4 linked regions of the Homo sapiens genome follow. The protein of the gene in region 1 purifies or fractionates together with the protein of each later gene. This does not show direct contact. Each region holds a gene or a part of one and is shown on either strand. Other genes may lie near its edges. The genes, in order: PGBD1, MYCBP2, ZNF174 and ZKSCAN8.

Evidence for each region.
Region 2: the proteins of PGBD1 (region 1) and MYCBP2 purify together in Homo sapiens (affinity purification with mass spectrometry; 2 studies listed by BioGRID and IntAct, with this or other methods). This does not show direct contact.
Region 3: the proteins of PGBD1 (region 1) and ZNF174 purify together in Homo sapiens (affinity purification with mass spectrometry; 2 studies listed by BioGRID and IntAct, with this or other methods). This does not show direct contact.
Region 4: the proteins of PGBD1 (region 1) and ZKSCAN8 purify together in Homo sapiens (affinity purification with mass spectrometry; 2 studies listed by BioGRID and IntAct, with this or other methods). This does not show direct contact.

What each region holds. Positions count from the first base shown.
Region 1 is NC_000006.12:28,284,542-28,291,573, reverse strand, and holds part of PGBD1 (piggyBac transposable element-derived protein 1), read right to left. Parts: intron 6,024-7,032; coding exon 5,867-6,023; intron 4,495-5,866; coding exon 4,406-4,494; intron 1-4,405.
Region 2 is NC_000013.11:77,093,084-77,100,115, forward strand, and holds part of MYCBP2 (E3 ubiquitin-protein ligase MYCBP2), read right to left. Parts: intron 5,931-7,032; coding exon 4,287-5,930; intron 3,399-4,286; coding exon 3,229-3,398; intron 2,520-3,228; coding exon 2,275-2,519; intron 250-2,274; coding exon 82-249; intron 1-81. UniProt on the Homo sapiens protein: Atypical E3 ubiquitin-protein ligase which specifically mediates ubiquitination of threonine and serine residues on target proteins, instead of ubiquitinating lysine residues.
Region 3 is NC_000016.10:3,404,215-3,409,896, reverse strand, and holds the end of ZNF174 (zinc finger protein 174), read right to left. Parts: intron 5,472-5,682; coding exon 5,249-5,471; coding exon of another isoform or gene 5,124-5,248; exon of another isoform or gene 4,989-5,123; coding exon of another isoform or gene 4,909-4,988; exon of another isoform or gene 3,856-4,908; intron 1,577-3,855; coding exon 978-1,576; 3' UTR 533-977; downstream 1-532. UniProt on the Homo sapiens protein: Transcriptional repressor.
Region 4 is NC_000006.12:28,137,510-28,144,894, reverse strand, and holds the start of ZKSCAN8 (zinc finger protein with KRAB and SCAN domains 8), read right to left. Parts: upstream 3,013-7,385; 5' UTR 2,866-3,012; intron 2,685-2,865; exon of another isoform or gene 2,632-2,684; intron 565-2,631; exon of another isoform or gene 471-564; intron 1-470. UniProt on the Homo sapiens protein: May be involved in transcriptional regulation.

The sequences.
Region 1 (7,032 bases):
CTTCAATTTTTTTTTTTTTTTTTGAAGAATTTGAATAGGATTGGTATTAGTTCTTTTTAAATGTTTGGTAGAATTCAGCAGGGAAGCCAACAGGTCCTGGGCTTTTCTTTGATGGAAGACTTTTTATTACAGATTCTATCTCGTTACTTGTTATTGGTTTGCTGAGGTTTTCTATTTTTTCATGGTCCAATCTTGGTAGTTGGCATGCATCTAGGAATTTATCCATTTCTTCCAGGTTTTCAAATTTATTGTCATAGTTGTTCATAAGTCTCTAATGGTTTCTTTGTATTTCTGAGGTCTCAGCTGTTATGTCTTTTTCATTTCTGATTTTATTCATTTGGGTCTTCTCCTTTTTTGTTTGTCCAGCTAAAGACTTGATTTTGTTTATCTTTTAAAAAAAATCCAACTTCTTGTTTCATTGTTCTTCTGGGTTTTTTTTTTTTTTTTTTGGTCTCAATTTCAGTTATTTCTGTTCTAATCTTTATTTGTTTCCTTCTACTAATTTCAGTTTGGTTTGTTCTTGCTTTTCTAGTTCCTTGAGGTGTATCATTAGGTTGTGCATTTGATGTCTTTTTACTTTTCTGATATAGGTGTTTATTGCTATAAATTTCCTTCTTAGTACTGCTTTTGCAGTATCCCACAAATTTTGATATGTCACATTTTCTATTTTCATTAGTTTCAAGACATTTTTACATTTCCTTCTTAATTTCTTCCCTGACAAATTAGTTGTTCAGAAGCATGCTATTTAATTTCCACGCGTTTGTGTAGTTTCCAAGGTTTTTCTTGTTATTGCTTTCTAGTTTTATTCCACTGTGATTAGAAAAGATACTTGATATGATTTATATTTTTTAAAAATTTGTTCAGATTTGTTTGTGGCCTAAGATATGGTCTATTCTTATGTCCCACGTGCTGATGAAAAGAATGTGCATTCTGTAGCAGTTGGGTTACATGTTCAGTAAATATCAGTTAGGCTTATTAGATCTAGCATGTAGTTTAATTCCATCGTTTCTCTGTTGACTTTCTGTCTGGATGATGTGTCAATTACTGAGAGTGGGGTGTTAAAATCTCCTACTATTATTGTATTGCAGTCTAACTCTCCTTTTAGATCTATTAATGTTTTCCTTATATACCTGGGAGCTCTGGTGTTGCATGCATAGGTATTTATAATTGTTATATACAGCCGGGCATGGTGTCTCACGCCTGTAATCCCAGAACTTTGGGAGGTCAAGGTGGGCAGACTGCTTGAGGCCAGAAGTTCAAGCCAGCCTGGGCAACATGGCAAAAACCCAGGTCTACAAAAAATACAAAAAATTACCCAGGCATGGTGGCACACACCTGTGGTCCCAGCTACTTGGGAGGCTGAGGTGGAAGGATCACTTGAACTCGGGAGGCAGAGGTTGCAGTGAGCTGAGATGATACCACTGCACTCCAGCCAGAGTGAAAGAGTGAGACCCTATCTCAAACAACAACAACAAAAAACCTCTGTGGCTAAGTGATTTTCTCTTATAGTATGCCTTCCTTTGTTGCTATTTTTAGTGAATTTATTATAGGTTTTTGCATTGTAGTTATCATGAGGCTTACAAAGAAGACCTTCAGATATAATAAGTTATTTTAAAGAGATAACAACTTATCTTAGATCCCAAATACAAGAGTAGAAACAAAGGCAGAAACACACAGAAAAAAATTATATGCTTTAATTCCATTCCTCTAGATTTTGACTTTTCGTTGTCTCAATTTATATCTTTATATTACCTATCTCTTAACAGGTTGCTAGCCATTATTGTTTGTCTTGTTTTGTTTTAAAGATATGGTCTCACTCTGTCTCATGTCTCCAGGTATAGCATCAGGATCTTACCATGTTGCCTGGGCTGGTCTCAAACTCCTTGTCTCAAGTGATCCTCCCACTTCAGCCTCCCAAAGAACTGGGTTTACAGGCATGAGCCACTGTGTCCAGTCCTATTATTGTTTTTGATAGGTATGTCTTGGGGCTTCACAGTTGTGAGTATACTGTATGTCACTATTACAGTAATAAAGTATTCTGGGTTTGTCCATGTACTTAATTTTATCAGTGACTTTTATGCCTTCAAAAGTTTTCTTTATGCACATTAGTCTTCTTTCCTTTTAGACTGAAGAATTCTTTAGCATTTCTTGTAAGATGTGTCTGGTGGTGGTGTACTCTCTCAGCTTGTTTGTTTGGGAAAGACTTTCTCCTTCATATATGAAAGATAATTCTGCTGGATACAATATTCTTGAATGTCAGTTTTTTTCTTGGAGTACTTTGAAAATGTCATTCCACTTTCTCCTGGCCTGTATGATTGCCATTGAGAAGTCTATTGCCAGACAAGTTGGAGCTCCTTATTTGTTTCTTGTCTCTTGCTGCTTTTCAGATCCTCTCTTTTTCCTGGACAGTTGAGAGTTTGATTATTATATGCCTTGGAGTAGTCTTATTTGGGATGATTCTGTTCAGTGTTCTCAGATCTTCCTGTACCTGGACATTTATATCTTTCACAAGTTTTGTGAAGATTTTTGTTATTATTTCTCTATTTTTAAAATTTATTTTTAATTTATTTTATTTTAATTTTTTTGAGATGGAGTCTTGCTCTTGTTGCCCAGGCTGGAGTGTAATGGCATGATCTCGGCTCACTGCAACCTCCATCTCCCAGGTTCAAGCGATTCTCCTGCCTCAGCCTCCCGAGTAGCTGGCATTGCAGGTGCCTGCCACACCTGGCTCCTTTTTTTTGTATTTTTAGTAGAGACGGGGTTTTGCCAGGTAGGCCAGGCTGGTCTCGAACTCCTGACCTCGTGATCCACCCACCTCAGCCTCCCAAAGTGTGGGATTACAGGCATGAGCCACCACGCCTGGCCTATTCTTTTTTTTTAAATAGATACAGGGTCTTGCTGTGTTGCTCAGGCTGGTCTCAAACTCCTGGCCTCAAGCAATCCTCCTGCCATGGCCTCCCAAAGTTCTGGGATTACAGTTGAGAGCCACTGCACCCGGCCTATTGTTATTTCTTTGAATAAGCTTTCTATTCTTGCTCTTGCTCAGCTCCAAGAGCAGACTGTTTAAAGGATGGCTGCCTCTAATGTGTGGTCTCCTTGCACACACTTGATTATCCATCATTCCACTTTCTGCCATGAGCTAAAGCAGCATGAGATCCTAACCAGATAGGCTGATGATCTTGGACTTCCCAGGTTGTAGAACTTTGAGCTAAATAAACCTCTTTTTAAAATAAATTACCCAGTCTCAGGAATTCTGTTATTAGCAACACAAAATGGACTAAGACAGAGCCTGTTTCCAAATCAGGTCACATTCACAGGTACGTGGGGTTAGGATTTTCATATATCTTTTGGAGGGACATAATTCAATTTACAACATCTAAGCCTTACTTCAATTAAGGGCCCCACTTTCTCTGTCTAGTCTTGTATTATCTGACTCAATACTAGTTTCATTTCACTGTCCACCTATACCATTGCTCTTTGATTTTCTTGGGCTTCTGGTCTTCTTATTCCTCCTTAATTTGAACTTACTAATTATATTTCAGTGCAAACACCTGACTACGTTGTTATTTCCCTAGTTATAATCACATCAAGCACTTGCATTTTGAAACACTACTTTTAAAATAAATAACTTTTTTGTTTCTACATTATACCATTAAATTACATTTAAGGGAATTATGTTGATTTTCAGAATGTGCATGAGTAGGTTTTATTTTCTAGATACTTCTTATCAGGAAGTATTTGTTAATAACAGGAGGCACTGGGTCTGATAGAATTAAAAATTAATTAGAAGCCATAGAAGAGGACTGAGCAAGTGTCTTGAGGAAACTGATGTGGCAGCAGTATGCAAGAGGACTTAAATGAGAGAGTTATTTTTTTTTTGTAAATAAATGACTAGGAAAATGAATGAACCACTAATAAGAAAAAAAACCAGAGTCCATTTTGTGAAGAAGATGTTAAGTATTACCTTAGATATATAGAATTTCCATTATTATCACCAAGCATTAATTGCATACATGCTGAATATAAAGTAGTGTGAGAAAGGGCCCTTATTCTAAAGCTGGGGAGATAAACCAGAGACTTCAAAGGAGAAAATATCAGTTACTCAACATCAAATGAGTGGAGCACTTTCTGAAACCAGGAGCCTCACTCCACCCCTCACTCCCATGCCTTGAGATTTGGACGTGCCTCCTGAACAATGAAATGAGGCAATGGCATATAATCAATACAAGCTCCTCGAATGATGCAACACACTTTGTGATATTCTGTGACAAGGTGAAGGCAGAGGGACTATGCCACCTGAATGGCTCTCACGATGATGAGTGTGAGCCAAGAGAAGGGCAAGGAACATGGAATGAGGGAGAAAGACCACTACTGATATTCCTACAAGCTTGGGCATCCTACTTACCTGGGACCTGACTGGGTTAAACACAGGCACTACAGCCTTGTCTCTGGGGTTTTTTTCCTGGAGATGAGCTGATCCGTGGGGAACAGGCCCTGCAGAGAGAGAGGGCAAGAGTCCTAAATGAGACATGATGGCCTTTAGGGTACCCTTTTTGGAGACCCAGCCTTTTCCCCCAAATGTTATGTTTGTTAAACATTCAAGAACTAAGACGTAGATTTTACAGTGTGAGAAAGAGCATCACAACTGCTTTCATTCTGTCAGAAATTCTAAAATTCTACAACTTTAGGGTCTCTCACCCAAAAAATGGAGTGGGATTTATGAACTCATAAGGTGCTTTACAGTCATGCACTTTCACATAAAGAAAAAATAAAAATCATAGACAAAAATAAAGGGGAGGAAGAAGCTGGTGATAAAGGAAGGATCAAGGAGAGAACACAGAGGCAAAAGAAAGGATGTAGAGAGTAGAGAGATGAGACTGAGGGGAAACAGGAAAGCAGAAGAAAGGAAGATGGAGAGAGAGACAGGAAAATAAAGATATTTAAAAAAATAGAGAAGAGATGTTAGCCATGAACTAGAAAAACTGTTAGGAGGTACTGATCCCAAAGAACCAACAATAATCAAAATGGTGATGATGACTGCACAAGGCCAGCCACTGTGCTGTTACTTTAAAAGATTATTTCCAATCCTCAAAATAATCAAGAAGGTCCAAATTATTGCCTCCAAAATCCTAGGCACATTCAGAAGAATCACAGCTGAGTGCAGAGTACACACAGAGATCAAACAGATAATTGTTGATTAACTGAATAACCTATTAAATGACTTGCCTAGGTCACAAAGTTGGCAGTTGGCAGATGGCAGAGTACAAAATTATCAAATGAAGAGCACATGTGGTAATTCTAACCCAAAAATATAAAACAGAACATCACTTTTCTTTGCTCTGCTTTTCTTTGCTTCCATAATGGATCACTATGGAATGTTTTTATTGCTGTTGTTGCATTTCTAGAAGGAATAAAGTTTGCTGGAAAAAAACAGCCTTGCCCCGATTCACTTTTACTATTATATGTACTTGTCCACAACACATACATACTAAATAAACCAGCTTAAAATGCACAGTGTAAAATAAAGCAGGTCTTTACAAGTTTGTTCAGATACAGGGTTAGACAAAAAAATAAAACTTGATGTTGGTCACAGGGTATAAACTTGCAGTTATAAGATGAATAAGCTCTGAAGACCTACGTACAGAATGCTGACTATAGTTAGTAATAATAATATATTGTATACTTGAAATTTCATGAGAGTAGATCTTAGGAATTCTTACCACAGACACATAAAAGGTAACTGTGAGATATGTAAGTTAGCTTGTGGTAATCATTTCACAATGTATACAAACTTGAGGTCAAGAAGGCTGTGCAAGTGTCAGTGGCCAGCTCCCAGCGTCCTCACTAAACTCACTCGAGCACTCACCACTCACTTCTTGGGGGTTCCCTTGAGGACGCTGTGGAGGTTCACACTTCAGGGTGGTTATCCCAGGCAGGAGCTGGAGGCTCTGACACTCCAAAGAGACTCCTTGATATTCTGCCACCATTGGGTGCATGTCCTGTCCCTGAATATAGACAGAGGCCTGGAAACAAAAGATTTATTTTGAAAGGGCATGCATATATGGACTGCATGCTAAGAGCCTGGCACTGTTCTACATGCTGGGGATACAGCAGCAAACAAGGCAGAAAAGACAGGCAAAGGATCCCAGCCCAGAAAAACAAAAACAACAAACAAGTGGATGTTTAAACTAGCTGGTGAAAATTTAATGAGGAACAGGATATGTACACCACCTCAAAATGTCTCCCACAGATTACTTAGTAATTACAAAGGGGAAAATGGTAACTTTCTAGTGGAGAAAATTGACAGGTACCACCATAACCTCATCAGTAATGGGACAAATCATCACTACGCACCTCCTGAAGTAACGCACTGAGAACACAACATTACCTCTGTGGTATTCTAGCCAAAATGTGCAGCCTGAATCATGAGAAAATATAGGACAAACTCAAATTGAGGGATAGTCTCCAAAAAAACTAGCTGTACTCTTCAAAAATAACAACGTCATGACAAAGACAGCAGCTACTCCAGATTCACAGACTAGAGATATGGCAACTAAGTGCAATATGTGATGCTGGCTTGTATCCTGAATCACAGGAAAATTATCATAAAGAACATTATTAGGATAACATGGCAAAATATGAATAAGGACTAAGGTTATATGATAGTATCGTAAGTTTAATTTCCCTAAACTTGATTTTTGTATTCTTGTGATACAAGAGAATATCCTCACTCTTCAGAAATACACACCGAATAGCCAGGTGCAGTGGCTCATGCCTGTAATCCCAACACTTTGGGAGGCCAAGGCAGCATGATCACTTGAGGCCAGGAGTTCAAGATCAGCCTGGGCAATATAGTGAGACCCCACCCCCGCTACAAAAAATTAAAAATAAATTAGCCAGGCATGGTGGCATGCACCTGTAGTCCCATCTACTCAGGAGCCTGAGGTGGGAGGATTGCTTGAGCCTTCCACCATTGCAGTTCAAGGCTGCAATGATGCTATGATCGTACCACTGCACTCCAGCCTGGTCAAC
Region 2 (7,032 bases), on another chromosome or scaffold:
TTCTACAGGACTCTTTTCTAGTTCAAAGTCTTTCTTCCACCAAACACTAGCTATTCAACAGACAGGAGAGAACTAAAATACCTTGGTGGCATAGACTTCATATTGCTCTCTGGCTCTTCAAATACATTAGGACTTGCATCAGGAGTTACTGATATATACGGGGCAGGTACAGATGTTGAACGTAGATATCTCATTTCATCCTGGAATAGATTGTCATCTTGATAGCCCACAAAATTTTCATGATGATGCCTGCATTAAATCAAACCCAATAACTTAAAGCATGATGGCAATACAGATCCTCTCCATTTTTAATCTCTTTCATAACAGGAAAAGCAGCACATGTAAATCATAGTTAAAGGCAAAGCATTAAAATAATCGTAGATGTAGGTAGGTGAAAATAAAAGTCTGATAATTTTATTCATCAACATTCCAGGTACCACGAACATTTCAAATCCAAAATTGAACTCAGTTTCTTTCCTTTTGAGAACTTTTCCATCTTCCAGTGTTTTGGTGAATAAGCCCACCAACCATCCAGTTGCTTAAGCTAAAATATTTCCAGTGTTGTAGTAGGCTTAGCCCTCTATCATCATCATCTTTCAAGCCCATGATATTAGGTTTCCTCTCAGAGCCATTCTCTCTTCTCATTCCCTATCATCACTGCCTTGGTTCATGCTTATTATTTCTTGCACAGACCACTGAAATACAAGCAGTTACTTTTTTGGGTAGGAACATACATAAGATCATATTTGAAAAATATTAGATATATGAAATTTTCTGTGGTTCAGGGTGGAAGGGGTGCCCATTCCCCAGACAGCTAAAAAGAAAAAAATCTATAATTATGCTGTGTTAGCATTTTTCACGTTTTACAATTTGATTCTTTCCTTTTCAAAATGAACAAATAGTTGCTAACCTAAGTCCACTGAGTGGTGTGATTCACACTAAAGATCTATTGTATTTTGGCATACTGATGATTTCCACCTCAGTCTCAAATGTACTTAGTCTGATATTTTCATTTTTGTTGCTTATTCATTTTATTGTAATAGTAAGCACAAAATTTTAAAAACCATACAACTCTGCTACACAAAGAGGACAATTTCCAAAATGGAACTGTTGGTCGGCAAGCCATGTCAGTGGGCAATATCTAGATTACCTTCATTTGTCAGCTGATGAAAAAAATTTGGTTTTGGTATATGAAAGGCTCTTTTGGAGTGTCAGTGCATGATGTGTGAAAGTACAGGCTGCACCACTGAGGTCCAATATATGAAAACAGAATACTAACAGGTTTCTATCTCCAGTAATGCACTTTTATCTAGTCTCCACATTAGCTTCCACATTCCACAGTGATTTTTTAATTGCAAACCAGTTCATGTATTTCTCTGTTTAAAATTCTTCCACTGTTTCCTCTGCTCATGGGATAAAATGCAATCTTAACCTGGGCTACAGAGCCCGACATTACTTGGGTGAACCAATCACTTTGAACGGGCTTTCACATATTTCCTCCAGTAGCCAGTCCTTTAACAACCCGTGATTCCTGAAATGTGTAATGAGATTTCATTTGTGTCTTTACTCACCTGGGTTATTCTTCCAAGAGTCGCTTTCTTCCTGTCGCTTGCCTGACAGATTTCTATTTATCCTTTGAGACTCTACTAAAGGCTCAGACCCTCTGGGAAGCCTTTTCTGATTTCCTGGGGAAGATTCAGATACTCTCCATCTTTTATGCTCTAACAGCATCTTACATACATACTTCTATTGTAGCACTCCTCACATGGCATTTCAAATGTTTCACTAACATGTCTGACTTGACATCCGAGTATGAGTACATAGAAGCCAGGATTTTGTTATATTCATACATTCAGGGCCTAGCACAAGGCTGGTAGGTGCCCAGTTGGTATTCATTTAAATGCTAACAGAATGAATAATTTACGAAATAAAAGACTGCTAAGGAAACACACTTTCTTTACACTTCAGCATTTCGCACTAACAGAGTGAAGTCAGCCTACCAAAGAGTAAAAGATAGCTATAGTCTTATTTTCTAAGACATGTTGTGTATTAATACAATGCAAATTGATGAAGCATTTTTATAGTTTTTTAAATACCTATTACCATAAAGTCATTATGTCAGTCAAGGCAACTCAAAAAATAAATGCCTGGAAGTTTGTTTATAGTACACAATAGCTAATAAAGTGTAGGTCAAATACCGAACTACCCTAGATATCAATAAACAATCGCTGTTAATCCAAAGGTGATTAAAAAACAACAGCAAAATTTTATTACCTAGCTAATGTCTGCAGGTAGAGACAAGGCATTTTCACAGGAAGATCCTCAGAAATGCCTTCTTTTACACTGGGCAACTGAGATTGGAATGGCTTTGCAGGATGGTAACACAGAATGCTCGGTTCTGCTGCACTGCTCAGGGACAGCAGGAAGAGTGCATTGGCTTTAATCACCTGGTGAGCTTCCATGGTGGGCAAGGCACGAGGGGTCTTGACTTGCATTGGTTTTCTCCTAGATTGTTTGACCTGGCGAAGAAAAAAATCAAACTAATCTTTTCTGACTTACATTAAAATCCTTAGTTTCTTAAGCTAAGTATTTTGAGTTTCCAATAAAAATTATTAAACACTTGTAAAGCTATTTTAAGATAATAAGATTATAAAAAACAACATTCATTTCATATTCATCCTGGGCTGACCAAGACAATTTTGTATCAAACACAAACTATACTTCCTTTCCTTCTTCAGAAAAATTTAACACCTAACTAGTTAAATCTAAATGTAATTCATTTTTTTAAAAAGTAAATCATTTCAGTGCGTGTATTCAGTGAAATTTTTTAGTTAGGTGCCACTAGAGTGAATAAAGAAAAGAGAGAGTAGATATGGAATAGGAAAACAAAGGAGCCAAAAAAAGAGGAAAAGAGAAAGAAGGTGAAAAGGAAAGCTCTCCATAGAGAGAATAACAGACAATTAATAATAAAGAGTTACACAACAAATATTTGTCAATAAGGCATATGTAGCAGAGGTTATCTAGTGTTATTCCAATATATAGTTAATTTTTAAAATTAAAAGCATTTGACTTAGTACAAATATTAAATTTGTATATGATTTCCATTATAAAAGCTGATCTTTTAATATCAACTATGTGGAATTATCTGATGTAGTAAGATTATAACAAGGTATTTTTATACAGTGTATCCATATCATTAAAAGTATAGCTCCAAATGGAATAAAATACCTTCTCCCTTGCAGCAGCCTGTTTTTCGCGGAGGTATTTTTCTCTACAGCGATCACATACCAGATACCAAGTGCTTCCTCCTATGCCACCATCACCACAGTTACCAGCCCATCCTCCACAAAAATGCCCAATGCTATTGTAACCTTGTCCACCAGCATATCGGCCACAACCTTGAAACAATACCAAAAATAAATATTTAACACTCCAAGTGTCCTTAATAGTTTGATCCTTATTACTCATACATTAATGACAGATTTACCTTCTCAAAGAAAGCAAAATACTGAAGTAGATATCTTATTTTTCAGGCTATTAACTATATCAGAAAAATAGCTTACTTGATCAAAAAGCAATCAATTAAATGATGCCCCAAATATGAGAGATACTTAGTTTCTAATCAGGCATATTAAAAGAGAGATAGAATATAGGTATATTTAGATATACTTAATTATGTCAATAAAATTAGACAATACAAGTATAAAAGTTCTATAACAATGATATATTTTCAGAAATCACATATTCATAAGACATTTGAGGTATAATATGTAGACAAAGAAAAAAATTAACCAAATTTGTATTAGGTGAATTTGGAATATTAGTCAATGTTACAGAAATCATTACATTTACTGAAAATGCAGTCTTCTGATAAAACAATATCACTTCCGTAGGAAAAAGCCTATAGAAATCAATCTAATCTAATTTAATTTGCAATTCTGAACAGGAAAATAGTAAAATCAAAGGAGATGCCCTGTGTGTATGGGCATGCCACTGTTTCTGCTGTGTGAGACAGACACATTAATGGCACACCCTTTGGGTAACACATAATATTTTTTAAAACATGCTACATGAAAGTGAAATAGCACTAAATGACCTGGCCATCATAATATTAGAATTTATCTGTTTTTCACAAAACCCTGTACTGATAATGTACTTTAAAAATGACATTCTAAGATACTATAAATTCCCTATCCTTTGACAAAATTCATAGAACAGCTCAAATAAAGTGATCTGGTTCATTAAAGAAAAAAGCACTTATACGTACATTCAACAGTATCATTTACCTGGGTGAGCTTGTCTCATGTGATAGGTCACCGGGTATGGATGTGACTCCCCACACAGTTCACAGATGGTATCTTTCTCTGGTCCTCCTACTGCCAGCTGGGCCATCTCTCCAAACAAATTACCCCTGGGCCTAACTTCTGCCTTTTCTTTTTTCTTTTTTTCCTTTTTGGACTTCTTATTCTCTTTCTCACACTCTTTCTTTTTAAGAACTGCACAGGAACCAGGACTTGGAAAAATCATATTCTGGGAAGCAGCTTTGATAGTAGCCAAAGAGATGTCTTCCCAAAAAGCCACTAAATGTTGTAAAGTTAAGGGAAGAGGAGACTTAGACTTCATTGTGTTATGCATGGACATTTCAAAAGTGGTCTCGGTTTTCCCATCCTCACATTTTTCATGCAGAGGTGGTTCCTTAAGCATAGACAATACCTTGTTTTTGTTGATGCTACCCATCTTAGATATATCTGGTCCATGGGGTGCAATATTAAACATATTCAGTGCAGATGATATTTCTAATGAATGTCTATTTTTTAACTTGGTTTCTTTTTCCTCTGTAGGTTGTTGGCTATTTAAACTACTCCTTATAGGAGCATGTTCTTTGGAAAGTTCAGGATGAAACTTTAGGAAAGAAGAACAAGCCATTGCATCATGTACTATGCCTTCATGCCAGAGGAAGGAAGCAAACACAGCTCTGGCACATTCGGCCACAGAAGGAGACATGGCTTGCTTGGCTGGCTCTAAAGGCTTGGATCCATCTCCTTTGAAAAGAAAACTCGATTTTTCTTTTTTGGGCCTGGTGTGTCTATTAGCACATTTTCGACTTATTTTGGGAGATGCTCTCATTTCCTGTTCATCTTTCAGTGGTGCTTTTCCAATGCTAAAATGAACTTTATTTGAACCTTCATCCACACTCTTAAATTCACTGCTGTCATCGCAGGTGCTGTCTGTTAGACTATTTGTTTTTAAAGTACTTGAGGTGCAGACTTCGACCACCTCACTGTGGAGGTTTTCCTGTACCACATGGGGAGAGGGAGCTCTATTTTCAGATCCAGGGGAATCTGTAGAATCCTTTGGTACTGATTTTGGTTTTGGTGACGTTGACCGTCCTCTCAAAGGTTCTGTGAGGGGCATTTTCTTCTTGCGGAGGGTATCTGGATCAAGTGTGTAAGAGTCTGATTTAGAACGTTCCCGAGGAGGATCAAGCTTTGTCTTAACAGGAGCAGTACTTTTTTGAGGTAGATTTTTATCATGTGGTGAGGAGGAGCGTGGAGAACTAGCACCCGATGGGCTAGACCTATTGGCTGGGAGAGTCTTTGGCTTAGGAGATGACAACCGAGAACCTGGTCCTGGGGATTCAGCTCTGGAGCTAGAAGGCATCCTCCCATCAGATTTCAATGTCTGCAAGGTGTTATGGTTGGGGGATAATGACCTACTGTGGGAATCTGACCTCAACTTTGCAGCATCAGATTTTAAGATGAGGGATTCACTAGCAGATAAACTTTCTGTGCCCCTTGGCTTCTTCTGATCAGCAGTAGTCCGGCTCATACGTCCATCAGGTTTAAGCGATCTGCTGTGTTTAGAGGACAGCTCTGATTTTCCTGATGTAGAGGCTGGTTTAGAAGATGTTGAGATGTTTCCTCGATCACCTGTATGGTCCATTTTACAGTGAAACTTATTAATAAAATTATAACTTACTGATAATTTAGCCACTAAACACTGAAATAAAAAAACATAGCTACAAAATTTATATTGTTTGTCATACATACTAAAATACTTGAAGAATAAAGGAAAGAAGGGGGAAATATTTCTAATAAAATTTCTACACATCATTACACAACATTACCACCAAAAACTATTTTCATGGACGCAAAACAACAGGTTGAACAAATCCAGTGTGAACTATCAGTGATATCTCAACCTCTGCCCTAGTGCAATAACTAGTTAGAATTTAAATTCAGTGAGGGACTAGAAAGAGACAGAAATTAATCTTTTGGGGAATAAGAAATTATTTAATGTGAAAACTTGTATTTTAAATGTAGAGTAGAGCTAAATTTCCAGCAGAGTGATACCTCGCATCCTTAGGGCAACGGTATGGGTTTTGTTGAATTAGAGAACTGAATTTATGCATAGACACAATTATAATTTTTAAGTGTATGCATACAATTAGGCTAACAAAGAGTTGCTTAAGAGGCACTCTGTTTTATGATCAGATTAGACTAGTTTACAATGAGCACATGAATGCCCTGAAGCTGTTATTTAATTATTTATAAACAGGTTACACTCCAAAAGTTCAGGAAGCTTAGCTGCTTAGAACTCAGAGCCTGTGTTCCCTTGGAAACCACAGAAACGGTGGATCCTCAGAATGAGTGGTAAAAGTCTGAACTGTGGACCCTCAAAACAAGGAGTCAGGAGAATGACAGAAAAACAGGATGAAAAGAAGAATCACCTCCCTTTTCTAAGGCAAAGCATTAGATGTTTCTGCATGGACATTAATTGTTTTTAGCACCCTGCCTTCATTCAGTGTCTCTCCTTCATTCTATTTTATGCTTTTCTTTGAGGCATTAGAGCCAGGCTGTCTGTGACCCAAGTAAATGGTACAAACTTCAACATCACCTTTCCTCCTTAAAATAAAAACTTCTACTCTTAGTGCAAGTGATACCAGTTAGTTGTTAGGAGAAAAGCAATCTGACTGAAGGGTTTCAAGTGGTATAAAAAACTGAAAATCCATAAACCTATCTGGAAGTATTT
Region 3 (5,682 bases), on another chromosome or scaffold:
TGAGCCACTGTACCCCCATTGCATTTTGTTATTCTTAAAGCTAATGGGCTAAGTGAGAAAGGAGAGTGGGAAGAATTCCCTTTTATATCTCCTTAGTACTCTTTGTCCACTACTTGCTTCTCACTGTAGCTTTTCCTTATGTGTTAGGCTGGGGTTGCAGCAACTGTGTAGATTTTTTTTTTCTCAATCAAAGGTGCTTTGAGAACAGGCACGGTGGTTCACACTTGCAATCCCAGCACTTTGGGATGCCAAGGCAGGAGCATTGCTTGAGCCCAGGAGTTCGAGACCAGCCTGGGCAACATAGCGAGACCCTGTCTCAAAAAATAAAAAGGAAAAAAAAAAGGTGCTTTGATACAAAAAAGATCCCTCAAATGTAATTTTCTTTTCTTTTTGTAAAAGCACCATCTAACTACTTGGAAACTCTTCTCGCACAAACGTGCATATTCTCATTTAATTCATCCTTTGCTATAAACAGCTAGTAATTACAGAAAGAATATGAGGGATCTATTTTCCAATTAACTTTGCCTTGAAATTCTGGTAGATCACTCATCTTTATTAAAGAAGTGTGCTCATGATAAAAAATTGTCTGGTATGACAGCAAATGCATAACTATATATATAGAATTTATCCCTTAACATATTTTAGAGGATAAAGCAACAGAGGGACGATTTAACAGTAAGCGGGCCACCTGCAGGATTGTCCTGATTCTCTCTCAGTAGTTACTCCTTGCTCTCTGCAGAGACTTAAGTTCTCTTTGCCCCAGTGCCCAGACCTGCCTTCTCTTCACCCTGTCATCATGCACGGTTGGGCCCTGGTTGGCCTTTTCTGGGCCTCCTCACAGCAGAATGTGCATCATCATTCCTCAAGGGCCTCGTGCTTTCCTTGTAAGTCACACAGTTTTTGTGATTTACATGCAAGTAAGGGGGAGGAGAAACACAAACACCTTCCGTGTGAATCTAAAGCATGGAGTGCTCCTTTTAGTCCCCATGGTGAAGTCGGTGATGCTGGTGAAGGTTTGAGCTCTGGCGAAAGCTTTTCCCACACTGGCCACACTGGTATGGCTTCTCTCCAGTGTGGATCCTCTGGTGCAGCTTCAGGGTTGACTGCCGCCCAAAGCAGTTTCCACACTCTCCGCACGTGTAGGGTCTCTCTCCTGTGTGGACTCTCTTGTGTCTCTTCAGCTCTGAATTCCACGTGAAGCTTTTCCCACAGTCATCACATTTGTAGGGTTTCTTTGCTGAGCGGGTGGGCTGGTGACCAAGATGTTGCAAACGGTTGCTCAGACTCCGTTTACCTCCTTTGCTTTTCTTTAGCTCTCTCAGTGGGTGGCTTTTTAGGGGGCTGCTGATGTATTCCACCCTGCAATGTCTCTGGTAGTGAGCAAATGGCTTTTGAGCATTTGGGGAGCTGACCTGCCTCCGTGACAACCGAGGTTCACTCATATTTGCCCCTCTTGGTTCAGGATTCTGCAGACCATTCCCTTTGGATCTGCCAGCTGACACTGCACATGGCTTTGCTCCTTTAGCCCCTTCCTGTTGTGGATTTTCCTTGTTGTCACTTCTCATTCTGGGGGCCTCTATAATTAGAAAGAAAATGCTTCATTTTCTGCACTTGGAAGAAATAACTTCAGCAAGAGTTATGAAATACTCTGAGAGGTTTCTCAAAGGGTGGCCCTCCGCTGGCAACTTGCATTAGACTCATCTGGAGCACTTGTTAAACAAGCAGGCTCTTCACCCTTCCCCCAGAGCTGCTGGGTCAGAATCTCGGGGGGTTGGGCCTGATAATCTGCACAGTTAGCAGGCTCCTGGGGTGACTGTGATTTATATTAAATTTAGGAACCAAGTTCTCCATCCTCCTTCTTCCTTTCTCCCTTTAGGGAAAGGTTTAGGAAATGAAGAACAGGGAAAAGCAAACCCATCAGAATTGGGTATCTAATGAAGAAGGAAGAGAGGTGAAATCTCAACATTGCAAATTTTACTGCTGTAGTCCAATGCCTGAGCTATTTCAACAAATACCCCTCACTTAGTAAACACTAATTGACAACCACCTTCTCTTCAAAAGATGGTAAGTTCAGAGACTGTGATGTTTTCTTTCATTACAAATTTGACAGTATATGAGTTCAGAAACTGGAATCAGGGCTTAGCCATGTATCCTAATTACAGAAGGATTGACAGTCTGGATGGAGATGAGCTGGAACGGCCTATGGGAAATCACAGGATCTGGAGAAGGATCCCTTGTGATGTGGAAAATGTGTGTGTGCACACGTGCATGCACAGGCACATGCACGTTGTTCAATATGGCAGCCACTAGCCACATGTGACTATGTGGCTACTGGGTACTTGAAATGTGACTACTGTGACTAAGGAACTTAATTTTAAATTTTTTTTTAATTTTAATTCATTTAAATTCAAATGTAAATAATCAGCCTATACAATCAGGGTCAATTGCTTTTTGACAAGACAATTCAATGGGAAAAGAATAGTCTTTTTCATAAAGGATTCTAGGACTACTGGATTTCCACATACAAGAGAATGAAGTTGGACCCTGCTATGGTCTGAATGTTTATCCCCCCTGTCCCCTGACACACATATATTGACAGTCCCCAGTGCAGTGGTCTTGGGAGGTGGGGCATCTGGGAGGTGATTAGGTTATGAGGGTGGGGTCCTCATAAATGGGATTAGTGTCCTTATAAAAGAAACCCAAGAGACTACCATGTGGGGACTCATAGCAGGCACCATTTATGAGGAATGGGCCCTCGCCAGACACCAAATCTGCTGGCACCTTGATCTTGAACTTCCCAGTATCCAGGAACTATGAGCAACAAATTTCTGTTGTTTATAAATTACCTAGTCTAAGGCAATTTGTTGTAAGAGCCTGATCAGATTAAGACAGACCCCTGATCAGATTGACAGACCCCTACCTCAAAACCTATATAAAAATTGACTTGTTTATGTATGGGGAAAAAATAAACTTAAAATGGACCAAATAGCTGAAAGTAAGAGCTAAATCTATGTCTCCTTGAAGAAACCATAGCTGTACATATTTGTGCCCTTGGATTAGGCAGTGCTATTTTACATATGACACCAAAGCATAAAGAAAGAAAAAAATAGATAAATTAGACTGCAGCAAAATGAAAAACGTGTGCGTCAAAGGACACTGTCAAGAAAGTGAGACAACCCACAAAATGAGAGAAAAGATTTGCAAATTACACATAAGGGTCTAGTATCTAGAATACATAAAGGACTCTTATAAAAAATAAAGACAAATAACCTAATTTAAAAATGACCAAAGGATCTGAACAGATATTTTTCCACACAAGATATGTAACTGGATAATAAGCACATGAAAAGATGTTCAACACCATTAGTCACTAGGGAAATGTAAATCAAAACCTCAAATCAAAATTTCTCACCGAATAGGATGGGTATAAGACAATAACAAGTGCTAGCAAGAATGTGGAGAAATCGGAATCCTCACACAGTATTGGTGGGGATGTAAAATGGTGTAGCTGCTTTGGAAAACAGTCTGGTAGTTCCTCATAAGTTAAACATGGAATTACCACATGACCTAGCATATGGTAATTCCACTCCTAGGTATATACTCAAGAGAAATGAAAACATGTCTACACAAAAACACACATTTATAGCAGCATTCTTCATAATAACCAAAAAGTAGAAACAACCCAAAAATCTATGAACAGATGAACCAACATGAACAGAAAACCAACATGTAATATATCCGTACAATGCCTATTATTCAGCCACAGAAAAGGAATGAAGCACTGATTGATGCTACAGCATGGATAAAACTTGAAAACATGCTCAGTGAAAGAAGCCACACACAAAAGACCACATATTGTGTGATTCAATTTATTTATTTATTTATTTTTGAGACAGGGTCTTACTTTGTCACATAGGCTAGAGTGCAGTGGCACGATCTCAGTTCACTGCAGCCTCGACCTCCCAGGTTGAAGTGATCCTCCTGCCTCAGCTCCCCCAAGCAGCTGGGATTACAGGTGTGCAGCACCATGCCCCGCTAATTTTTGCATTTTTTGTAGAGACAGGATTTCGCCATGTTGCCCAGGCTGGTCTCGAACTCCTGAGCCTAAGTGATCCGCCTGCCTTGGCCTCCCAAAGTGCTGGGATTACAGGCGTGAGCCACTGTGCCCGGCCTGTGTGATTCCATTTGTATAAAATGTTCAGAATAAGCAATTCTAGAGACAAAAAGTAGACTGTGGTTGCCAGGGGCTAAATGTTTATGTTCCTCCAAATTCATATGAAATTCTAACTCCCAAGGTAATAGTGTTAGGACATGGGGCCTTTGGGAGGTGATTAGGTCATGAGGGTGCTGCCCTCACTGGAATGGGATTAGTGCCTTCATGAAAGAGCCCCACGGGAGCCTGTCTTCCCCTTCTGCCACATGAGGACTGAGAAGTAGGCAGTCTGTGACCTGGAAGAGGGGCCTCACTGGAACCCAACCATGCTGGCACCTTGAACTCAGACTTCCTAGCCTCTAGAACTGTGAGAAATAAACTCCTGTTGTTTATAAACTACCTAGTCTCTAGCATTTTATATTAGCAGCCTGAACAGACTAAAACACGAAGTACCTCATTGGATGTAGCAAATATTAAGAAACTGAGGATTTTTGTCGTCTTGTAACCCTCCTCCCTAACGTGCTCACTGTATCTTGTATTCACATCACCAGGCTTGGCCAAAATGTCACTGTCATTCAGGCTTAGAGATCACAGGACTGTGTAGAACAAGGCCAGCAGTTACACAAGTATCACACCAGAGAAAGGGAAATAGATTTGAGGATCTAAAGTACAAGCAACATCACAGAGGAGGACAAAGATATAAGATATAGGGTGGGTTTTTATTTCTACCAGGCCCCTCTAAACAGAGGAGCATTTTAAGCAATGAAACTCAGCCATAGCTTGCATGGAAGTTCATCTGTGGCCATATTTGGATCTGTCTTTTCTATAAGAAGTTCTGAAACGGACAGAAAAGTAGGTACAACCCTGTCATGCACTGGATTCTTAAATTTTCATTAACAGAAAACGATAAAAACATACTTACTTGTAGTATCACCACCATCCTAATTAGTGAAATTTGTTTAGTGAATAATCATCTACTATTATATATAACATTTAAAAAAACACACACATGTGGTCTATGCCTTTGCAGAACCATGAGATACATTGATGGAGATAAAGGGCTGATGAGAGGGAGAGAAAAGGCAGAGTGTTTACCTGTCCCAGCCAATTTGGGGGTTGGTTCTTGGAGGAGTGGGGATTTCTCCCAATGATGGGGGCTCAGCCGGTCATAAGCTCCTGCCTGGGAAGGCTCTGCTGGAGAGCTCTCCCTGAGATCTCTCCTAGGAGTCTGCGGTTGAAAGTCTGGCAGTTCCTGTTCTCCAAGCTGAGATCCAGTTTTCTCCAAGAGCACCTTTTGCCCCTGCATACAAACGGCCACCTAGGAACAAGCCCCATCCATTAATTCCATCCATCAGGACTGAGGGAAGCTTGATCTCTCACTGTTGTATAATGACCCGTTTACCTTGGGAATTGCTGATAACCATCTAGAGGTCAACTTTCATAGAAACCACTGAAACCCTCAAAGGAAGTAAAGGGGAGAACGTGAAGAATGACAGGAATGAGGATGCTACAAATCAGCCGAGTGGCTT
Region 4 (7,385 bases), 150 kb from region 1:
TAGTAGAGATGGGGTTTCACTGTGTTAGCCAGGATGGTCTCGATCTCCTGACCTCGTGATCTGCCCGCCTCGGCCTCCCAAAGTGCTGGGATTACAGGCGTAAGCCACTGTGCCCGGCCTAAAATCATTCAACTCTTAACTCTAATTTATCTATTACCTTTTTCATGAGTTCTTCTCTGTCATCCCCCTGCCATTTGTCATTCCTACCAAAGCATTTTTAACATGGTCCAAATATAGGACTTATCACATTGTGAGAATGTGGCCATGGCCTTATTGCAAATGTTTGTTGACAGAGGTGACCATTATCTTTGTATTTCAAAGATACTGTAGAGAATGAAGAAGAGTGTAAGTAAAGGTAGCATACCCTAAACCAGTTGTCATGAGATGCTAACATCAAGATAAAACCAGAGACCTATAGTCCACAAAGAAGAGATAGGTACTTAGGAAAAAAATCAGATTACTGTACATACAGTTCCCCATACGGATCATCAAGGCAGTGCTTATCTTTTCAGTTTTTGGAGTTGTGGCACGGGGCGAGGGGGGTTGGTTTATAGACTCTTCAACCTAAAGAAAACACAGAACTTCTTTCCAGCAAAATGTCCACAGATACAAAATTGTATACTCAATTTCGGCAGAGTTCACAGACTCAAAGGCCATCCAAGAATGCCAGGAAGGTTAAAAACAAACAAACATACAAACAAATCCTACATAGAGAGTGTGTACAGAAAAGAAAGGGAATTTGAAAATTATTTTTCAAGTTAGACAAGGCCGGGAACAACAGGGTGGAGAGTAAACTACAGATCAGAAGAACCAAGGAGCAAAAGATATGGTTAAATATATCAATTAACATTGGGGGTATAGTTCATTGATTATGACTTTACAGGAAAGTGGAGGAATTTGCTAGAATAGTGAGATTTGGGGGAAGAGTGAATTTGAGGAAGATGCTGAGATTTTGTTGAGAAAGGGTAATCAATTTGGTTTTGACAATTTGTTTTTGTTTGAATAAATTATCTATAATTTTAAGATAATTTATTTTAAAATGGTCTTAGCTAATTTTAAAATAATTTAATTTTTCAAATCAAAACAAACTCTTAAATTTTCTTAAAATAGCTACTTATGGTTTAATGTTAAAAACTTAAAGGTCAATACATGGGACATAAATTCTGTTTAGAATGTGATGTTATATAGTGGTAGTCTTACCATGTTTTCTTATAAATTTCCTTAAAGCCAAGGTTCATTTTTAACTACTGAACAACTGGCCATCTATTACTGAGCAATCCTCATCCATAATGGCTATAAAATATTATTATTATTATTTAGGGACAGGGTCTCACTATGTTGCTCAGGCTTGAGTGCAGAGTCTATTCACAGGTGCAATCCCACTACTTACCAGTACAGGAGGCTATAAAATATTTTAATGTGAAGTGCGCAGCATTCAAGAACTTTATATTGTTGATGTGGTATTAAAAAGTCTCAATAACAACACTGATGAAAACCAGCTAATTATCAGGTTTGTTCATTTTTTATACCAAATCAGCCAACAGGTCTTGCCCATTGCTCATCTTGATTATTCTATTTAGTGGCTAATTTTCCATTTTTTTAAGTCTCTTCCCTCTCTGATCAGCTGGTTTTTGAGAATTACAACCTATAAATAACTGAGTGCAAAATTACTCCAGTATGTACCTTCCTCTCAGTTTTGTGCGTACATGTCTGTATTAAGTTGGTGAGCACTTTGTGGATACAGACTGATTTTTACATAGTCTCCTTAAAGAACACCTAGTCAAGTTTACATGAGTTTAAAAGGCAATCTTTAAAGCTTCCTCTGGATTTTAAATACTGTAATCCTGTGAGATGCTGAAGGCACAACTCAATTTTAACAGTATTATTTTTTCAATAGTTGTGGAAGGAATGTATTCTTCCTTCAGACTATGTCTAATTTGAGAAATGTTTGGGAACTGAAAACAAAACAAAAAAGACATTTTCCAGGATTTAAAATCCAAGAAAAAGTAGGTGAAGCCAATACTATGCTTTGTTATCTCAAATTGCATTAGCTGAAAGTTTTAATTAACATCTATCACATTTTACATTTAAACAACAGAAATTCAAAACATGTATGTATTTGCTAAAACAATGATTGCTACGTAAATATACTCAACGGAACTAACAAACAACAGAAATATGTTTTTAAAGGTGGTGGTGGCAGTCAAAGTAGCCTGACAAAAATTACTCATGACTAACCAGAGTTTTGGAAATGGGGCCCTCCCAGAGTTCCTCGTTGGCTAACTTCAGTTTGCTTTAACAAATGAAATAGGCATTCTGATAATGTTGAATTCTGAATTACCCTGAAATTAAAAAAAAAAAAAAACTTTCGTACAATTATCTAGTCAACACACCACCAGTTTCTGAATACACTAAAGAAAGAAGAGTAACAGCAAAAATTGGTTTCCATGGATAAACGGGGCTTCCAAAAGCAAAATATGTCTTTTTTAAAAACTGAGAATTTTGTTGTGACCTAAACGCAAAAGAGCGCTAAGTGAAAACAATTCAGACTCTGGAAATAGTTGGATAAAAAATAACATGGGGGGGGCGTTCCCCATTTTAAGATAAACAAGATCGACTACAAAAACATACCACAACACGATTATCTATGAAGAAAGCTTCATAAAAGGTTCCCTCGCAAAAAGTTCAAGGGCAATTCGTGGGGACGTACTCTGCCTGCAACAGCAACTAAGGCGTCAGAATCGGTCCGCGGCGCCGAACACCGCACAGGCCCCTCTCCGGACCCCTCAGGCCAGTCCTCAGCTGCGGCCTGGACCAGCCACAAAGCACCCACTTTCCTCCGGCCCAGAGCCCGACCGTACTCACTGTGAGTTGCAGAGGCGCCCCGTCGTGGGGAAGGGAGGCTGCAACGGATAAACAGACTCGAAGGAAGGTCGGGGAGTAAAGGCGATGAAAGCTGTACTCGGACCAGGCCCCTCCGGCCACTAACTTCTAAATCTGCGGAGGCACAACACCGGCCAGCACGCATCTTGCCCCAAAGGCACTTCCGGAAGCTCTCTAGGAGTCCTGGAGGTCTACAAGCTCTATGGTCGGCCGACTGAGGGTACCGGAGTACCACGCCCCTCACCTGCTGTGTGCTGTGCCTCGGGTTCCTCCCGCGTCTGCGTGCCTCAGGCTTGCGCTGTCGCTGGGGCAGTGAACGTGCTGGGGAATAACGGACCTTGGTGTCCCCTCCGCCTTGTGTGCCCATGCAGCTCCGCGCGCTCGCTGTCAATAGTAACGGTCCCCTGGGGGTAGATATCGGACGTGGGGAGGCTGGAGCTGTGAATAGGAGGCTGGGAAAGTGTTGGAGGAGGGAGCACTTCATGGATCCTTAGGATTCCAACTGGATTCGCGTTTGGCTCCGTTACATACCCTGTACTTTACTGTTCTCGATTCATAAACATATCCAGACCTCTCACATAGAGTACAAACTTCATGAGGAATTCCTGCTAATCACAGTTCATAGTTTTGTGAAATCCCTATGGCATGGCACTTAGGAATAGCATATTTTATTAAGTATTCAAAAAAATCGTAATTAAATATATATTCTTTTTGGATCTTTACATATTTCCCACTCTTTCCTATCTTAATGAATTTCTATCGCTTACAGCATCTGCTTTGCTGCTTAGCTGTTTTAATGCTAAACCTATGATGTAAGCTTGAAGAGTAGACCCTAGGTTTAATACCACAAGATATGGGGAACAAATCTATGTTCATTCTTTCTTTGTTAGTCTTTTTTTCTTTTTTTGCCTTTTTTTTTTTTTTTTGAGACAGGGTCTCTATTGCAGAGTGTAGTGGTGTGATCATAGCTCACGGCAGACTCAACCTTCTGGGCTCAAGCAGTCTTCCCACCTTAGCCCCCCAAGTAGCTGGGACTACAGGTGTGCACCACCCTCAGCTTAAAAAAGAAAATTTGTAGAAACGGGGTGGCGGGGCGGGGCGGGGGTCTCACTATGTTGCCCAGGCTGGTCTTGAACTCCTGGGCTCAAGTGATCCTCCTGCCTCAGTCTCCCAAAGTCCTCGGATTACAGGCATGAGACACCACCCTGGCCCTGTGTTCATTCTTTACAGACCTGTTGCATTAGAGCTTTTTAACTTTTGAGACTAATAGGATTTCAGGGGTGGAGGTTGTGGCAAGTGTTATTTTTTGTTGTTTAAGTCTCATGTATTTATTTCCTTCAGCACCTTTCCCAACCACCTATTATTGAGTTCTCAGGGCTCCTCCAATTTTCACCTTAATTTCCCTCTTTATCTGCTCCTGCTGGTAGCCACCACCAACATTTCTATCCCTTCCCAATTACTAACTCCCCAATATTTTGCGTACTGACAAAGTCGTTTTGATTTAAGGGTTTTGTCATCTAATTATCACATGAAAACAAGTAAATAATAGTAAACACTGGGAAGCTACAGTGCTTCTGGACTCCTTCAAAGTAATTATTTTTGCTTTTTATTTCACAGCTGTTGCTTTCCACCTGGGATGGTAACTGGAAGTAACTGGTGACAGACTAGAACTCTACTTTCAGTTTCTTTTTTCACATTTTAAAAGTAACTTTTTTGGCTGAGCGCGGTGGCTCATGCCTGTAATCCCAGCACTTTGTGAAGCCGCGGGAGGATCACCTGAGCTCAGGAGTTTGAGACCAGCCTGGCCAACATGGCAAAAACCCATCTCTGCAAAAAATACAAAAATTAGCCAGGCATGGTAGTGGGCTCCTGTAGTCCCAGCTACTCCAGAGGCTGAGGCGGGAGAATCGCATGAGCCTGGGAGGCAGAAGCTGCAGTGAGCTGAGATCCTGCCATTGCACTCCAGCCTGGGCAATAGAGCAAGACCCTGTCTCAACATAAATAAACAAATAAATTTTTTTTAAGTCTGAAGTTGTGCACATATGTAGTTGTACAAATTCAATGTGCACACAACTATGACTGCACATACTATGTACAAAGTTGTGTACACATAGGAAGTAAAATAGCGTCATGCCATAGGTAGTTTTCTCAAACTGGACACACAGACACTGATTGTAATAGATAAAACTGATAAATTTGACTTCAAAATTTTAAACTTAAATTCTCATCAAAATTTAAATCTTCTCAAAAAAAGCACCATTAAGAAAGTGAAGAAAAAGCTACACACTGAAAAATATTTGTAATACATCTATCTGACAAAGAACTATCCAGAATATATAAAGAACTCTCACAATTTAATGAATAAGATAATTCAACACCAATAGGCAAAAGATTTAAACACTTTCTTTACAAAAGATAAAAGAATGGCCAGTATGCACACTAAAAAGTAACCATTATTCATCAGGGAAATGCAAAGTTAAAACCTCAATGAGTTACCACCACATATCCGTTAGAATGGTTGATAATATCGCCAATTTCTAAGTTATTCAGGCTTGAGAGGCTTCCTTAGTTTACTCAATGAAACATGGAGATAAAGGAGAAATTATCAGAGCCAGATTTCTCCTTTGAAGTGTTACTTTTCTCCATTAATATAACCACCATCCTCAGTTCTAATTACTTCACACCTATGTGACTGCAACAGCCTTGAGATAGCCTTCCTAACTATACAAGACGTGGTCCTTAAATATCATTATCATTCTTCCAATCACTGACCCTGAGTGGTTCCTTATCTCTAAGTAAAATTTAAACTTCTATGCTTGCCTTTTATTTTTTGTATTTTTAAAAATAAATGAAACATGATAAAGATTAATATTATATAAAATTCTTAAAAGCTGACATCTCCACCCTCAAATAGTATTTACCTAGAATGTTGGGAGATAATTCTTTAATGGCTTCTCAAATTACTCCTAGTCTTATGGTAGATTTTTCTTTGAGGTTAGGTTTTCAAGGATGTTTGTATCTCCTTCTAGATCACAGTTGTTTCCTGACCAGGATAATAAAGATAATGGCTCATTCTGGGGCAAGGCTGAGCAAAGGTTGGGCTTCCTAAGCTTGGCATTCCTCTGCTAGGTTGCAAACCCACTGTTCCATCCTAGCAGGGGAATGCCAAGCTTAGGCCCCTCTGTGGGCTTTGGGAACATAAGCTTTGGGAACAAGGGAATATAAAGCTTATGATGCCTGTGTTATTAAGTAATAAAGTCTTCTGTCTCTGACGCAGGAGTCCAGTGTCTTCTGTTAGTATCCATAAAACTGTGGCAAGTTAAATTGTTAGCTTGCAAGTAGGGTAAAAGTTTCACAATTTTCAATATGGGGTAATCACTGTTAAGTTTGGAGTGCATCCTTTTCTTGTACAAATACCCCACAAATTATATCTATATAAACAAATTTTTTCAACAAAAATGGAATATATATTGTTCTGACACTCCTTTTGTCATTTGAACGGTTGAAAGGTATTCCTCAATAGCATATGTCATATGTAATTCTTCCGCCATTGATTTACATTGATAAACAAGTGTTTTCCTTTTTTTCTACCACTAGCGTCCTGTCTGCCTTTTATTGCCTTCCAGAATGACCTTCTCCCTATCCCATACCCCTGGTCATAATTCCCCTGTACCCCCAAGTCAAAGGACTTATCTCATTGCTCACTACTCAATCTAAACACTCGTCTATTATTCTAATAACCCCCTCTCAAGACTTTATTATTCGATTTTGCACTGATCACATTCTGTCTTATATTACTTGCTATGTTGCATTTGCTGTCAATAGATTAAAGCTTCCATAGTTGAGGTGTCGGTTCTGAGATCTCCTTCCCAGTTGCAGTAAGTGGCAGCCCTTGAAATATGCAGATGTGCCATACATTTCTGACAGGAAGAGTGGTTTGCCTTTTTTTGTCAAGTAGCTAATCAATCTGATTCATCCTCTCCCTGCAATTCTAGTCTTATTCAATAATTCCTTCTGCTTAGGTAGGTCCTCATTCACCCATGTACTTATCAAGCACCCACCATGTGACAGATGCCAAGTGAGGTGAAAGTGCTGGGATGAGCACCTCTGTGGATCTCACAATGACCATCCATCTTTTGCATCCTTCTTGGTTTTTCCTTTACCCAAGTCCTGCACTTCACTCTTTACCCGTGCTTCAGAAAAGCGGAAGTTGGTTAATTAATTCCATTTGTCTAACACGGATGAGAGTGACAGCAGACAAGGGGAAAGGCAGGGAAATTCCCTTAGACTGTTCTTACATGCACTCTCACACTTAATAGTCAAAGCCACCCTATGAAATAGACACTACGTTATTAGCCTGAGTTACATAAACGAGTAAACAGAGGCTTGGAGAAGTTAAAAATAAATTGCCCTCAGTCCTAACTGGAGAGTGGTGGAGTCAGAATTTGAATCCAGGTTTAAAGAATTCTAGTGCCGGCACTCTGCACCTATTTCTCTTTGGA